2 linked regions of the Homo sapiens genome follow. The gene in region 2 interacts genetically with the main gene of each other region. Each region holds a gene or a part of one and is shown on either strand. Other genes may lie near its edges.

Region 1 (2,860 bases), on a different chromosome or scaffold from region 2:
TTACATAAACAATACATGTTTATATATTTTTATTTTATTTTGGTGGGAGGACGGAGTCTTGCTCTGTTGCCCAGGCTGGAGTGCAGTGGCACAAGCTTGGCTCACTGCAACCTCAGCATCCCAGGTTCAAGCGATTCTCCTCCCTCAGCCTCCCCAGTAGCTGGGATTACAGGCGCTTGCCACCACGCCTGGCTAATTTTTGCATTTTTAGTAGAGACGGGGTTTCACCATGTTGGCCAGGCTGGTTTCAAAATCCTGACCTCAAGTGATCCACCCATCTTAGCCCCCCAAAGTGCTGGGATTACAGGTGTGAGACACCGTGCCCAGCCAAAAAAAAAAAAAAAAAAATTGTTAAAGAAATATCTTCAGGCACAGCCCTCCAAACTCATTCGTATTCATTCAACAAATAAGTATGAACTATATGTCAGGCACTATGCTAGAGGCCACAAAAAACACACAGTCCCTCTTTTACAGATTTTATAGACTAGCAGGGGAGACAGAAATGGATCAAGTAAACACGAGTGTCAAATGTCAAGTGTGCTAAGTGCTAGGAGAGAGGGCCAATGAACTATAAGAATAATAAGATGTGACTTGAAGGGGAGAGCAATGAGCAACAAGAAGAGGAAAAGGTAGGCAGAGGCCAGCCACACCAGGCCCTGTGGGCCTGTTAAATATTTGGGGCTTTTTAAGTTTTCATACCATTTCCCATCTGCTTCCTGCTAGGCATTACGCTACCCGCTTTTTATTTTATTTTATTTTATTTTATTTTTTAGACAGAGTCTCATTCTGTTGACTAGGCTAGAGTGCAGTGGCACAATCTTGGCTCACTGCAGCCTCTACCTCCTGGTTTCAAGCAATTCTGCCTCAGCCACCTGAGTAGCTGGGATTAAGGCGTGCCGCCACTACTCCTGGCTAATTTTTGTATTTTTAGTAGAGACGGGATTTCACCCTGTTGGCCAGGCTGGTCTCAAATTCCTGACCTCAAGTGATCTGCCTGCCTCGGCCTCCCAAAGTGCTGGAATTACAGGCGTGAGCCACCCCGCCCGGCCATGCTACACGCTTTAAACACATTTCCAAACTTACCCTTCACAAACACATTATGAGATAGGAATGATTATCCACATGGGGCTCAGAAAAGGAAAGTCATTTGCCCAGAATCTATGTGACTCTAGAGCTGGCTCCTCATCATCGTGTCTATTGCCTCCTGTTTACCCCTCCATCAGGACTGTGTGTGTCTCTGTCCACGTGGAAGAGCTCCCCACAACTCACTTTGCCCTATTGTAAGTAGTTCAACCTCCACCACCTGTTTCAGAGCCCAAATGCAGTGGCTCTTCCCTGAACTTTTTCAGCACCTACAGCTTCTGTACTTCTGAAATCTTGAATGATGGAAAGTCCCTTCTTTGACCATATACCTCCTGGCCCAGCTCAAAAATCACTGTTTTTTTGTTTGTTTAATTTCTCTGACTTCTCCAGGCAGGGTTAGTCATTCTTGCTTTATGCCCCTTGGCACTCGGTTAATTTTCCTATCTTGGGGTTTACTGCATTCTTTATCTCTTACCTTCCCTGAGCCATCTTGGTGCCTGAACACAGTTCGTGGCCACCGAAGGTGCTCGATGACACTTGTTGAATGAGGGGTTCTATTGCTCCCTTCCCTCCAATTCCCACTTGCCCTCCACCTGCTACTCTGTTATCTACTGGCTCTGCCCGTCTATGTGTACACATGCCTGACACCTCAGACAAGGTGACTCATGAAGGATGCCCCTGACTAGCTTGCCCTGCCTCCTCTGTTACTGTCTTTGCCGCATGTCTTCTGAGTCAGTATAAGGTGGTGGTTATTAGTAAGTGATCCTGAGTCAGACTGCTTGGATTCAAGCTCCACTCCTGCCTCACCGACTGACTTCAAGAGAGTTTCCTTAGTTCTGTAAGGAAAAGCTCTTCATCTGTTAAATGGGGGTGTGACAGGAGCACCTACCTTCTAGGGTTTTCACAAGGATTACAGGAGGCCACATCCACTGGGTCTGGACCACAGTAAGTGCCCAGTACCCTTGATCTAGAGTTACTATTTTTCATGTCAATTGATGCACAGTCTTACTCCTCTACCTATTGTCTTGGCCAGCATCCATCAGTGTGTCTGTCTGCTGGGGAGATGCAGGGAGAAGACTGTCAATTGATCTCTGCTCCCTGGGATGGATCAGCCGTCTCCAGCTTTGTGTACCATCCTTTTCTCTCTGCGTTTCCCCAGGGCTCCCTGTGCCACTACTTGACCCAGTACACCAGTGACTGGGGAAGTTCCCTGCGGATGGCACTGTCCCTGGCCCAGGGCCTGGCATTTCTCCATGAGGAGCGCTGGCAGAATGGTGGGTGAGCTGGGCATAGGAAGTCAAGGGAGCCACAGTGCTATGTTTGTGATTCTGCCTTAGTTTGGAGGGGAAAGATTGGGTCAAAAGAGGGAGGAAGAGCCGGGCACGGTGGCTCACGCCTATAATCCCAGCACTTTGGGAGGCCGAGGTGGGCGGATCACAAGGTCAGGAGATCGAGGCCATCCTGGCTAACATGGTGAAACCCTGTCTCTATTAAAAATACAAAATATTAGCCGGGCGTGGTGGCATGTGCCTGTAGTCCCAGCTACTCGGGAGGCTGAGGCAGGAGAATCACTTGAACCCGGGAGGCGGAGGTTGCAGTGAGCCGAGATCGCGACACTGCACTCCAGCCTGGGCGACAGAGCGAGACGCCGACTCAAAAAAAAAAAAAGAGGGAGGAAGAAAATCCATGTTCCTTCAACCTTGGATTCCCCCACAGGCCAATATAAACCAGGTATTGCCCACCGAGATCTGAGCAGCCAGAATGTGCTCATTCGGGA
Region 2 (5,454 bases):
CCAACCTCCCCTTCCTCCACTGCAGTGGCCGAGCAAATGCGGGCCTCCCTTCCCTACGCAAGGCCGGCAGGTTGTCCACACGGGCAGAGAGGCAATGCCGAGGTCGTAGACAGAAAGAGCAGACCCCAGGCCCCCAGGCAGGGTTGAGACAAGAGGCAGACATGTCGGAGAAATACGGTGGGCTTCCCCCGCGCCCAGGGGCTACACTGGCCGCATGTGGATACCTCTGGGAGTGCACAGTCTCAGCACACATGGGACAGAGGAGCACAGTCCTGTCACCAAGTCAAAAAATCACCCAGGTGGCAAATAAACACGGCCCGTGGGTCCCCTCCTATAAAGCAGCAGCATGAGGCTGCAGGGCGCTGTGGAGGGGACAACCATCGTCTCACCCACAGGGAGTATCTGTCCTATTTATGTGTTTATGTATCTATAAAAACGCAGTGAACCGTGCCCTCCCAGGGTGCGTGCTCCAGGGTCCGTGAGGCGTGGGCACCCAGAGGGAGGGTCCCGGGAAAGGTCACCACCAGGGCAGCTGCGTAGGTGATCAGGGCCCTGACGCCCACCGTCTGGCCACCTGCCTCCAAAGCCTCCCCGCCCCCTGCCTCCTCACACTCGCCCTGCGCTGCCAAAACCACCTGGTGGTGTCCGCCTGCCACGGACATACCCCATCTCCTCCTGCCGGCAGGTCCAGCCCCAGACCACCCGCTCCATTCCTGCCAGGGCCCACCTCCGGATGGCTCCTCGGCCTTGCCGGCCACGGTGCAGGGACCCCGGTTGGCTGAGGGCCTGGAACCGGGATGCCACGCCGCCCTCTCCCCGGGCAGATCATGGAAATCCCATGGCTCCTGGGGCCTCCCCTACGCTAAGCGCTGCCAAACCTCTATTCAGCCCCACTTCTCGCTGGAAGCCGAGACTCTCGCCCCCTATGCTAAGCACTGCCAAACCTCTATTCAGCCCCACTTCTCACTGGAAGCCAAGACTCTCGCCCCAACTGCCCACTCACCCTCTTGGCCTGAATCTGCTCCCACCCCCAGTTCCCGCCCAACACAGGGCACTGCCAACACCCAGCATCCAGCCTGAGGCCAGCGAGGTGTGTGCCCTGGCAGCAGGGGTGGGGGAAGCCCTGCCTGAAGGGCACTGAGCCACGTGCCCTGCGCTGGACAGGCAGCGGCCTCGGTCCAGGAGCTCCTGCCCACACAACGAACAAGGCATGGCACGGATGCTGGAGGCCGTGTGGGGTCTGGAGAGTGGGGGTGGAACCCCACCAAGCACAGCCATGGGATGCGCGGCCCGAGAGCAGCGTAGCCACCTGCTCAGGGCCCAACAGTCTCCGGGATGCAGTAGGAAGTGAGGTCAGAAGCTTCCCTCTGAAGCCACAGCCCCCGGGACTCACTCTCCTTCCTCTCCCAACAATGGAGCCAGTGTGGGATGAACGGAGCCCCCACACCAGCTCAGGGGCCAGCAGGGACCAGGAGGAGCAGACGACTGGCCTAGGGGTGGTCGTGAGCTGAGGCAGCCACAAAGGAGCAGTGTCCAGCCTCCCACCTGGCCCCTCCCTCCTAGGGAGACGGCAGGGCACCCCTGGACTTCTCATGCTACCAACCAGCCAAGCGAGTCCCCCGCCATGTGGTGCTGTCAGCCAGAACACGCACAGGCAGCAGCTGCAGTGAAAACCCCACCTGCGGTCACCACGGCTGCTCCTGCCCTGACGCTCCACGAGGGTGAACCTCCGAAAACGGCACCACTGCCACCTCCGTGGCACAACGGATCAACAGTTCAACCCCGTAACATGCGAGACCGGCGTAGGAAACCCCAGTACTCACTGTCTTCTCCCGGACATGGCAGGCCAGGCTGCTCAGGGGTGCTCGGGAAAACTGGACAAGAGAGAGAAAGAGACAGCGTCAAGACCCTGCGGCTGCCACTCAACAGTCTCACGGAGGAAGTCCCGCCTCAGTCAGGCTGAGCACGTGGACTTCACGCAAGGCGCACGTGGCACTGCCAATGAGAGCCCGCTCCTGGGAGACGCAAAACCCCGTGCGTCTACGTAGGCCAGGCTCCGACTTTAAAACCCACGGAAAAACTTAGAGTAAAAGGCAATCAGAGGGACCTGGACAGCAAAGCCATCAGAGGAAGCTACTGATTTGTATTTTTAAACTATATAAAAATGGGAAAGAAATGCAATTACTTTGAACACTGACTTTTAAAAGCACTTTAGATTCCACTTCTTCATACTCAAGACAGAGTTCAAAATTATTTTAACATATATCCTGGGCTTCCACAATAAATTATTAAAATAGGTGCTTAGAAAGTATTAAAACTTGGCTGGACATGATGGCTCACGCCTGCAATCCCAGCACTTTGGGAGGCCGAGATGAGAGGATGGCTTCAGGCCAGGAGTTCAAGACCAGCCTGGCCAACATGACGAAACCCCATCTCTACTTTTTTATGTGTGTGTGTATACACATAAAAGTATTGAAACTTTAAAAAAACAAACATTTTTTGTTTTTTGTTGGTTTTTTTCAGATGGAGTCTCACTCTGTGCCCAGGCTGGAGCTCAGTGGCACAATCTCAGCTCACTGCAACCTCCACCTCTCGGGTTCCAGCAGTTCTCCTGCCTCAGCCTCCCAAGTAGCTGGGATTACAAGTGTACACCACCACGCCCGGCTAATTTTTGTATTTATAGTAGAGATGGGGTTTCACCATGTTGGTCAGGCTGGTCTTGAACTCCTGACCTCAAGTGATCCACCTGCCTCGGCCTCCCAAAGTGCTGGGATTACAAGTGTGTGCCACTGAACCCAGCCCTATTTTTCTTTTATCTAGAAAACAATGTGAATTTTTAAGCCACTGTATCTTTCCACATAGAGAGGCAAAATGTGCTTACTATCACAACCACAATAAAAAGGACTAGATTAGGCACATCTATGAATTTATTTATCTGACACAGGGTTTCGCCCCATCACTCAGGCTAGAGTGCAGTGGAATAATCACAGTTCACTGTAGCCTCTACCTCCTGTGCTCAAGGAATCCTCCCACCTCAGCCTCCCGAGTAACTGGGACTACAGGTGCACCACCACGTCTGAATATCAAAAAAAAAAAAAAAAAAAAAAATTGGGGCCGGGCACCGTGGCTCACGCCTGTAATCCCAACACTTCAGGAAGCTGAGGCAGGCAGATCACCTAAGGTCAGGAGTTTGAGAACAGCCTGGCCAACATGGCGAGACCCCATCTCTACTAAAAATACAAAAATTAGGCCGGGCACCGTGGCTCACGCCTGTAATCCCAGCACTTTGGGAGGCTGAGGCGGGTGGATCACGAGGTCAGGAGATCGAGACCATCTTGGCTAACATGGTGAAACTCCGTCTCTACTAAAAATACAAAACATTAGCCAGGCGTGATGACACATGCCTGTAGTCCCAGCTACTTGGGAGGGTGAGGCAGAAGAATTGCTTGAACCCGGGAGGCGGAGGTTGCATTGAGCTGAGATCGCGTCACTGCACTCCAGCCTGGGCGACAGAGCGAGACTCCAACTAAAAAAAAAAAAAAATTAGCCAAGTGTGGTGGCACATGCCTGTAGTCCCAGCTACTCGGGAGGCTGAGGCAGGACAATCGCTTATATCTGGGAGGTGGAGGTTGCAGTGAACAGAGATAGTGCCACTGCACTCCAGCCTGGGGACAGAGCCAGACTCTGTCTCAAAAAAATAAAACAAGTTTTGGAGAGGGGGGGGTCTCACTATGTTGCCCAGGTTGGTCTTGAACTCCTAGGCTGAAGCGATCCTCCCACCTTGACCTCCCAAAGTGCTGGGATTACAGTTGTGAGCCACCGCACCCGGCCTAGTCTTTAAATTTAGAGCCTCATTGATATAAAGGGCGAAGAAAATTAAGTGTTGTAACCAGGTAGCCCGGTGTCCAGGAGAATGATGGATCTGTCAGAAATCCATGGGTGGTTTCGAGCTTTGGTCCCATCTTGGACTCAATCGTCCATGGCCAGACGCCTGGCAAGGAGCCCAAGCTACGCCAGAAGTGGACACAGAGACAAAGACGTGACCGGCTGGCCACAGCGCTGGAACCACATTCCCAGGCCCCAGACGCCCTGCAGACCCCCAGCAGTACCGGGGAGGAGCCCACGCCCACCTAAAGACAAAGTGGAAATGATCACAATCACATCTCCCATGCGTCAGCTCATCATGGGGCTTTGAACTTAAAGCTGAGGACAGCTGTGAGCCTGGAGCCGGGCCTAGGGAGCACCGGGCAGGTGAGGTGGCTGGTGGGGCTGTCCCCTCTGTCCACATGCGCCGCGGGCCCTACGCTGGCCACTGGAGCCTCTGAGTGGTTTACGGGTTCTTTGTTAAGAGCAGTTTTCATTTGGGTTAATAAAATGTCAAAGAAAAGGCCGGGCGCGGTGGCTCACATCTGTAATCCCAGCACTTTGGGAGGCTGAGGCAGGCAGATCACGAGGTCAGGAGACTGAGACCATCCTGGCTAACACGGTGAAACCCCGTCTCTACAAAAAATACAAAAAATTAGCCGGGCGTGGTGGCGGGCGCCTGTAGTCCCAGCTACTCGGGAGGCTGAGGCAGGAGAATGGCATGAACCCAGGAGGCGGAGCTTGCAGTGAGCTGAGATTGTGCCACTGCACTCCAGCCTGGGCAACAGAGCAAGACTCCGTCTCAAAAAAAAAAAAAAAAAGTCAAAGAAAAAAACCCAAATGGCATTATATTAGACATCCCTAAATTCTCTGGCATCATAGGATTTTAAACCATTTTAAATCCCCCAGCTAGTCGGCAGACACCCACAGCCAGGAACAGCCCCCCAGAGCTGCCCACCACAGACCCCGCCACTAACCATGAATGATGAGGCCTTCATCCCTGCACTGACGGGCCAGGCGGAAAGCCTCTTCCAGCTCCATCTGGGAGGACACCGTGCAAGGGTCACCTGGGTGGGGCAGGAGACGGTGCTGACGTCGCCGAAGGCCCGAGGCAAAGGGGGCTGTGACGAGCCCGCTCAGCACACCAGACAAGGGTCTGGTGGGGGGCAAAGTCCCGATGCTCAGACTGGCCACCTCCTGGCAGGGTCGGGAGGTCCAAGGACGGCCGTCCACACTAGGGAGTCACCTGGCCCCCGGTGCAGCGTCAGAGCCACCCCGGAAGGGAAGTCAGTACACCTGCAGCCCTGGGCACCACTTGGAGGGCTAAGCAGTGAGCGGGGCTGAGGACACTCTCCGGAGGTCAGTCCTGGGCGGAGGGAGAGCTCCTTGCCCTCTATGGCTGGAAAGGGACATGGAGGTGTACAGAACCCAGGCCCTGCAGGGCTGTACCCAACCCAACGGGGGCGCTATCAGGCTCCACCCGCACGGCCGTGTCCTTGGCCAAGAGCTGCCCGCCAGTCCCTGGGAGAAAGGGGTCTCTCTGGACGTCTCCCAATCCCCTTGTTTTTCAGGATGTGTCTAAGAGACAGG

The links. Genes that interact genetically often act in the same process or in processes that back each other up.
Region 1: changes in PRKCZ (region 2) and AMHR2 together harm fitness more than expected from each alone (negative genetic interaction), as found in Homo sapiens cells (one large-scale study listed by BioGRID).

What each region holds. Positions count from the first base shown.
Region 1 is NC_000012.12:53,426,654-53,429,513, forward strand, and holds part of AMHR2 (anti-Muellerian hormone type-2 receptor isoform 1 precursor), read left to right. Parts: intron 1-1,223; coding exon of another isoform or gene 1,224-1,280; intron 1,281-2,242; coding exon 2,243-2,357; intron 2,358-2,799; coding exon 2,800-2,860. UniProt on the Homo sapiens protein: On ligand binding, forms a receptor complex consisting of two type II and two type I transmembrane serine/threonine kinases.
Region 2 is NC_000001.11:2,055,961-2,061,414, reverse strand, and holds part of PRKCZ (protein kinase C zeta type), read right to left. Parts: intron 4,932-5,454; coding exon 4,842-4,931; intron 1,875-4,841; coding exon 1,824-1,874; intron 1-1,823. UniProt on the Homo sapiens protein: Calcium- and diacylglycerol-independent serine/threonine-protein kinase that functions in phosphatidylinositol 3-kinase (PI3K) pathway and mitogen-activated protein (MAP) kinase cascade, and is involved in NF-kappa-B activation, mitogenic signaling, cell proliferation, cell polarity, inflammatory response and maintenance of long-term potentiation (LTP).